Linked DNA regions of Homo sapiens. The protein of the gene in region 1 interacts with the protein of each later gene in a pairwise test. Each region holds a gene or a part of one and is shown on either strand. Other genes may lie near its edges.

Region 1 (4,076 bases):
CTGTCGCCCAGGCTGGAGTGCAATGGTGTGATCTCAGCTCACTGCAACCTCCACCTCCTGGGTTCAAGCAATTCTCCCGCCACAGCCTCCCGAGTAGCTGGGACTACAGGCACACGCTACTATGCCCGGCTAATTTTTCTATTTTTAGTAGAGATGGTGGGGGCGGTTTCACTATGCTGGCCAGGCTGGTCTCGAACTCCTGACTTCGTGATCTGCCCGCTTCAGCCTCCCAAAGTGCCGGGATTACAGACTTGAGCCACCGCGCCCGGCCAAGGGTTACTTATTGAGTCTGGCTCGATTTATGCAGCTCAGAAGTAGGAGAACCTGGCTCATAAAAGACCTTGAAATTACTCTCTAACAGGGTGCAACACCAGGTGAAACCCTATTTTGATAAAAAATGAATAAAAAGCGGGGCAAGATGTAAAGGAAACAGGTGCATGTGTGCCAGACAGATGATAATGCAGTGTTTTTATGGATACTGTTAAAAGCAGAAACAAAAACGACCATTGGGTAAAGTTATTTAACTAATGTCACCTCCCTGGACGTGGATGATTTTTGCAATTTTCAACGCACTTCACGCTCATCCCTGAACACCAACGTTTAAAGGGGTCCAACTCCTCCAACCTGTCTCTACTGTTTGATAAGCAAAGCTAAAGTAAACGGGGCCCTTTGGGTCCCAGGTAGCCCGCTGTTATTGAAAAGTTTGATCTTTTCCTCGCGCGCTCCCGTAGGACGCACGCTCGCTCCCGAGCTCGGCGGGCGCGCACCCCGCATGCTCGCTCGTTCCCGGTGCCTCCCACTGCGCAGGCGCACTCCCGTCCTCCAGCCCCACCCGCTCACACACCTCCCAGCCTCTGGCTTGCGCCCCGCGGGCAGCCATTGCGCACGCTCACCCGACCGGCCTCCCGAACTCCGCTCCTCCACCGCTATGCACGGCGCATGCTCCATGCGGAGGTTCCACCCTCTCCTCGCTCTGGCAGGCACGCATTGCGCATGCTCGCATTTCCGCAGCTCTAGGACTGCCACGCCGCCATGGGCCGCGCCTCTAAAAATCCTAAACGCAGAAAGAGCTCGGGCGGTACGGCCGCCACAGCCCCTCCCTCGTCCTCACCGCAGCCGCTCGGCCCCACCAAAGCCTCCTGCAAAAGCTCCGAGGGCCGCGGGGCGCGCGTGGCTAGCGGCGGCGTCGCCTCGTGATGACATCGTCGCGATGACGCGACGCAGTGACGTGAACGCGGGCGCCCTTGTTTGGGAGCGCGGCCGGCGCGCCCGTTTTGAAGCTGCCCTGAGCAGCGCGGGCCGGACCGCGCCCCCTCCTCGGTCCCCGCGCCCCGCGAGTCCGCGCAGTTCCCGAGGCGCGGGCCCTGTTCCCTGCGCCGCGCCCCCTCAGCGGGCCGTGCTCGCATCACCGAGGTCGGTCCGGGGCGGACCGAAGCCCCCGGGGCGGGGCGGGGCGCGGGCGTCCGGGGGCGCCGCGGGCCCAGCCCCCGCCATGCCGCCCGGCAAAGTGCTGCAGCCGGTCCTGAAGATGAAGGTGGACGAGCTGTTCCTGTACTGGCTCAGCGAGGCCAGCACGCAGCGGATGCTGCAGGACTGCCTGCGCCGGATCAAGGCGCCCGGGCGGGACCAGCCGACCCCGGGGGACGGGGAGCAGCCCGGGGCCTGGCCCACAGCCCCGCTCGCCGCCCCCCGGCCCAGCGGGCTCGAACCCCCGGGAACCCCCGGGCCGGGCCCTGCGCTGCCCCTGGGCGCCGCCTCCAGCCCCAGGAACGCGCCCCACGTTCGAGGCACCCGTAGATCCGCAGGGACGAGAGTAGTAAGTTACTCTTCCTTCTGCTAACAACTGCGCAGGTGGCTCTGGTCGCATAGTGGGCGTGTGGCTGCGCGATGGAGGCTGGTGGGCGAGCGTCAGACCCCAAAACGGTTTCATATTGAGTCTGTTCCCCGCCCCGACCCCCCCCACCACACACATACAGACAAGAAAGTCCCACGTACTGAACATTCCGTCATTGACAGTTGTTAACCTAAAAATCACACAATTTATAAAGGTAGAAAGGCTTCCTATTTTATTTTATTTTATTATTTTAATTTGTTTTAATTTTGAGACAGAGTTTTGCTCTGTTGCCCAGGCTGGAGTACGATGGCGCGATCTTGGCTCACTGCAACCTCTGCCTCCCAGGTTCAAGCGATTCTCCTGCCTCAGGCTCCCGAGGAGCTGGGACTTACAGGCACGTGCCACCACGCCTGGCTGATGTTGTATTTTTAGTAGAGACTGGGTTTCCCCCATGTGGGCCAGGCTGGTCTCGAACTCCTGACCTCAAGTGATCCTCCCGCCTTGGCCTCCCAAAGTGCTGGGATTTCAGACGTGAGTCACTGCGCCTGGTCCGTTTTTTATTTATTTTACAATTCTTTGGAGACAGGGTCTTGCTCTGTCTCCTAGGCTGGAGTGCAGTGGCGCAAACACAGTTGGACTTCCTGCCTCAGCCTCCCCAGTAGCTGGGATTACAGGCGTGCACCATCACGCCAGGCTAATTTTTGTTTATTTATTTATTTATTTATTTTTGCAGAGACGAGGTCTTGCTATGTTACCTAGAGTGCTCTGGAATTCCTGGGTCCAAGCAATCCTCCCGCTTCGGCCTCCCAAAATCCCACTGTATTTCTTAGAAGAAACGCCATTTATTTCATAGAAGGTGATTATACACCGCAGGTGAGAAGCGCAGCCTCTGGCTAATGTACCTGTAATCTCAGCTACCCGGGAGGCTGAGGCAGGAGAATCACTGGAACCCAGGAGGCAGAGGCTGCACTCCAGCCTGGGCACCAGAGCAAGACTCCATCTCAAAAAAAAAAAAAAAAAAAAAAAAAAGAAAACTAAAAACAAGCACTTGGAGGGAAGAAAAGATGAGACGGGAATTTATGCTGAGTGGGTTGGCCAAGTGTATATATTCAAGAAGTTATAGGAAGAGCTATGGATATTCACCAAGGGTGTCCTGACGCATGGGTATTGAACAAACATGCATGTTACCTACTCCCGAGTTCACCTTGGAGCGGAGACTTAACATTTAAATGCATTATGGTTAGGCCCCCTAGGTCAAAAGGTGAAGCAACTCTGCAGCCTCTGTCAACCGGCCAGAACCAGTCCGTGGTGAGTAGTTACCAGGATAAAGTGATTGCAATCAGTTTTTTTTTTTTTTTTTTTTTTTTGAGACAGATTCTCACTCTCACCCAGGCTGAGATGCAATGGTGCAATCTCAGCTCACTGCAACCTCCGCCTCCCGGGTTCAAGCGATTCTCCTCCCTCAGCCTCCCGAGTAGCTGTGATTACAGGCGCACACCACCACCCCCGGCTAATTTTTGTATTTTTAGTAGAGGCAGGCTTTCACCTTGTTGGCTAGACTGGTCTCAAACTCCTGACCTCAGGTGATCCACCCGCCTCAGCCTCTCAAAGTGCTGGGATGACAGGCGTGAGCCACCACACCTGGCCTGGAATCAGTCTTTTCCCAGTCAAAGCTGTAGTTACGGCTGGTGGAACAGAGGGGTCTGTTCATCAGGATCTGACAGGAAGCTGCAGGTGTTTTAATATTGTTTATATTGGTCAGGCATGGTGACTCACGCCTGTGATTCCAGCATTTGGGAGTTGGAGGCAGGCAGATCACTTGAGTTCAGGAGTTCGAGACCAGCCTGGGCAACATGGCGAAACCCCATCTCTGCTAAAAATACACAAATTAGCCAGGCGTGGTGGCGCACCTGAAGTCTCAGCTACTCAGGAGGCTGAGGCAGGAGAAATGCTTGAAGCTGGGAGTCGGAGATTACTGTGAGCTGAGATTGCACCACTGCTCACCAGCCTGAGCAACAGAGGAAGGCCCTGTCTCAAAAAAAAAAAAAAAGTATATATATATATATAGAGAGAGAGAGAGAGAGAGAGTCTTCTTGCGTGCGCGAGCTTGAGGCCAAGATAAGCAATAGAGAAAAAGAAAAACATCCTTTATTTACTTCTTGAATCTCAAAAACGAGTTTCTGCAGAGGTCTCTAGTGAATAACCTAAAAGGACATTTAGCTGCTGGAGAAAAAGAAATGCT
Region 2 (3,500 bases), on another chromosome or scaffold:
ACTCTTGGCAGGAAACGTACAACTCTTTCTTTCTTCTTTTCTTTTCTTTTTCTCACTCTGTTACCCTGGCTAGAATGCAGTGGCACAATCATAGCTCACTGTAGCCTTGAATTCCTGCGCTCAAGTGATCTTCTGGCCTTAGAGTAGCTGGGACTACGGCTGCTGTACCACCATGAACAGCTAATTTTTTTTTTTTCTTTTAGAGATGGGGTGTTGCTATGTTGCCCAGGCTGGTCTCCAGCTCCTGGCTTTAAGCAATCCTCCCGCCTTGGCCTCCCAAACTGTTGGGATTGCAGGCATGAGCCACTTTGCCTGGCCAACAGAACACTTCTGCCGAGAGGAAGTGTGTGGTGGCCAGGAACTCAGATTCTGGAGCCAGAATGGTGCAGGCTCAAGGTCAACCCTGTGTGATCTCAGGCTTCCCTATGGAGCCTCTCCAGCCTCAGTCTCCCTTGTTTCAGTTTCCTCATCTACAAAACAATGTTAATAGTCAAATGGTGCCTATCCTATAAGGCTCTTGGGAGGATTCAGTGAGTTAATTTGAGTAATGCTTAGGATAGTGTCTATTACCACTGGCTGCTATTTATTATTTCTGTTATGAGTGATACTCTGTACTTGTACACTTTTATTTCTGTCTGTTTTAAATTAACAGCACAACAGACCATAACACTGCAGTATATTGAATTTATTTTATAATTAACATAGCATATTATAAACTAATATAGCTTAAATGTTTATGTAGGATTTCTGACATGAAATTGCATTAGATCATAGATGTTCAGAGTTGGTATATAACAGCCCCTGAGAATGTAGTAACTCAGCAGAGACCAGAAGGTCAGAGAAATGACCACTGAGTATTTTTGAAACTCTTTTGTTTTCTTCCAAATAGTGATTCTTAGGGCTCCTGAGAGGCAGATGGAACAATCATTAACATTCCACTTTATAAATCGGGAAGTTGAGACCAAGGAAAGTAGTTTGAATAAGCTCACAGTAGTTAATGAGGGGGCCAGTGCTGGACCAATTGGCCAGCACTGGTCATTGACTTATTCATCCATCATTCATTTATTCAGCCAGAATCTATTAGGTGCTTCATACATATTTGCTTAAAGTTTGTTGTGTTCATAGAGCTTTGCACACGGTAGGTACTCCATAAACATTTGTTGATGAAATAAGTGAGTTACTGAATGAATGATTGAATTAGAATGACACTGCAGTGTTAAAATGGGCTGGGTTGGGGAACATTTTAGTTTTTGTTTTTGTCTGTTTTCCAAAAATGTATGTGTTGTTCACATGAGTCTGGATAACCCTAGATTGAGATTGATGACATAAATAAATTTGTCTTCAAGGCTGCACTAAAGCTGGCTCACATGGCTAGGTATTTACAGAGCAGAAGTGGTGCAGTCCTCTCTGATTAGTTGCACGTACAGAAGACATATTCGTTATTGGACTGACCTTAGTTTCTCTTATAATTTGTTAGGGGAATTGAATCAGCCCATCTGAGAAGTTACAAGATTGTGTCTTGTCATCTTTAAAAGTTCAGCAATGTGATGTGGTACAGATGGTCTGAGGGGTTTGGAGAAGGTAGCCTAGATCCCTAGGGCCCAGAGAAGACAGGATGTGAACAGAGGAAGTACATGGATTGGTGAAGAAAAGAAATGGGATAACTCATGGGTCAAAGAAGAAATCATGATGGAAATCAGAAAATATTCAGAACCATACAATAATGAGAATATTATTTATCAAAATCTATTGGATGCAGCTAAAGCAGGACATAGGGGGAAATTTACAACCTTAGGTGCCTAGATTAGGAAAGAAGGAAGGCATTTGTTTATTTATTTGTTTATTTATTTATTTGAGATGGGGGTCTCACTGTGTCACCCAGGCTGCTGGAGTGCAGTAGCACGATCATAAATCACTGAAGTCTCGAACTTCTGGGCTGAAGTGATCCTCCCGCCTCAGCCTTCCAAGTAGGTGGGACACAGGCTAGCACCACCATACCAGGCTAATTTTTTTTTTGTAGACACAGGGTCTTGCTATGTTGAGGTCTCAAACTCCTGGGCTCAAGTAATCCTCCTCCCTCGGCTTCCCAAAGTGCTGGGATTACAGGCATGAGCCACTGCGCCCATCTAAGGCTGAATTTTAATGAGCTAAGAATTCATCTTAAGAAAGGGCTAAATAGACAGCAAAAGCAAACATTGAAGGTTGGGACTGAGCTGAGTGGGTAGCAGGGATGGGAGACAACAGATCTGAGGAGAGCAGGAGATTTTGAAAGGATTGCACTGCCTGAGGTTTAAGCCTTTAGAATCCAGCTCTCTCTGAGCTCCCTTTGAGCTCTGACATTCTGTGACTCTGATTTGGTGGCCTTCCCTTAGTGGCCTTACTGATTTCATTTGGATGGTGCTTGTGGTATATCCAACCAACATGTCTTCCCAAATGGCCTTTTAATTTCCTATAAAGAAGTAGTTGTCATTGATTGCAGGTTAGGGACAGAAAATGCTGTGGAATGAAACAAAATGCAAGTTAAAGAACTAAATTCCAAAAATACCCATTGCTACTATTGACTGAGTGAATTCCTACTGTGTGCCAGACACTGTACCCAGTCCATTCCCTGTATTGTTTTATTTAAGCCTCACAAGGGTATAGTGTGACTACACTGTTTCTTAACAATGAAGAAACTGCCCAAATCGCCCATCTGGGAAGCGGCCCAGCTAGAATTTGAATCCAGGCCTGTTTTCCTCCAGAGCTTGTGCTATTCTCTGTCTGTCATAAAATGTGGGGGCTTTGTGTGGTAAACTTGCTCAGTTGGGCATAGCAGTTGTTAGGAAACCTGAGGCTGGTAACACCAGCTGTAATACCAGCTGTCCGTCTGACTCATGCAACTGTTAAAGTTGATAGGGCTGAGGTGTCAGACTGAGCTCTGAATTGCCTGATTCCTATAACAATATTAACTTAAACATTTTTTAAATTGGGAAATGCACCATGCATACAGAAGAGTGTGTATATTTCATATGTATAGTGTAAACTGTTCCCATCACCCAGGTTAAAAAACAGGATGTTGCCAGTACCTGGGGCCTTCTTTAACTGCAACTGCTAGAGGTAAACACTGGCTTGACTTTTGTGTAAATCATCTCTTTGCCTTTCTTTAATGTTTTAGCATCTTTTAAAATAAATCCCCAAATAATGTATTGTTCTATTTTGAAAAACTGAGTAGCAAGCCAAAAATAGCTGTGTAAAGAAAGGTCACTTAAATTAGGCTGGGTGCAGTGGCTCAAGCCTTTAATCCCAGTACTTTGGGAGGCTGAGGCAGGTGGATCACAAGGTCAGGAGATCGAGACCATCCTGGCCAACATGGAGAAACCCCGTCTCTACTAAAAATACAAAAAATTAGCCAAGAATAGTGGCATGTGCCTGTAGTCCCAGCTACTCGGGAGGCTGAGGCAGGAGAATCGCTTGAACCCGGGAGGCAGATGTTGCAGTGAGCCGAGATCGCACTGCTTGAA

Evidence for each region. The genes of interacting proteins can lie anywhere in the genome.
Region 2: the proteins of PPP2R3B (region 1) and NOD2 interact in binary tests that used the Homo sapiens proteins (3 or more experiments, as listed by UniProt).

Annotation. Positions count from the first base shown.
Region 1 is NC_000023.11:384,108-388,183, reverse strand, and holds the start of PPP2R3B (serine/threonine-protein phosphatase 2A regulatory subunit B'' subunit beta), read left to right. Parts: upstream 1-1,276; 5' UTR 1,277-1,492; coding exon 1,493-1,816; intron 1,817-3,078; exon of another isoform or gene 3,079-3,142; intron 3,143-4,076. UniProt on the Homo sapiens protein: The B regulatory subunit might modulate substrate selectivity and catalytic activity, and might also direct the localization of the catalytic enzyme to a particular subcellular compartment.
Region 2 is NC_000016.10:50,700,106-50,703,605, forward strand, and holds part of NOD2 (nucleotide-binding oligomerization domain-containing protein 2), read left to right. Parts: intron 1-3,500. UniProt on the Homo sapiens protein: Pattern recognition receptor (PRR) that detects bacterial peptidoglycan fragments and other danger signals and plays an important role in gastrointestinal immunity.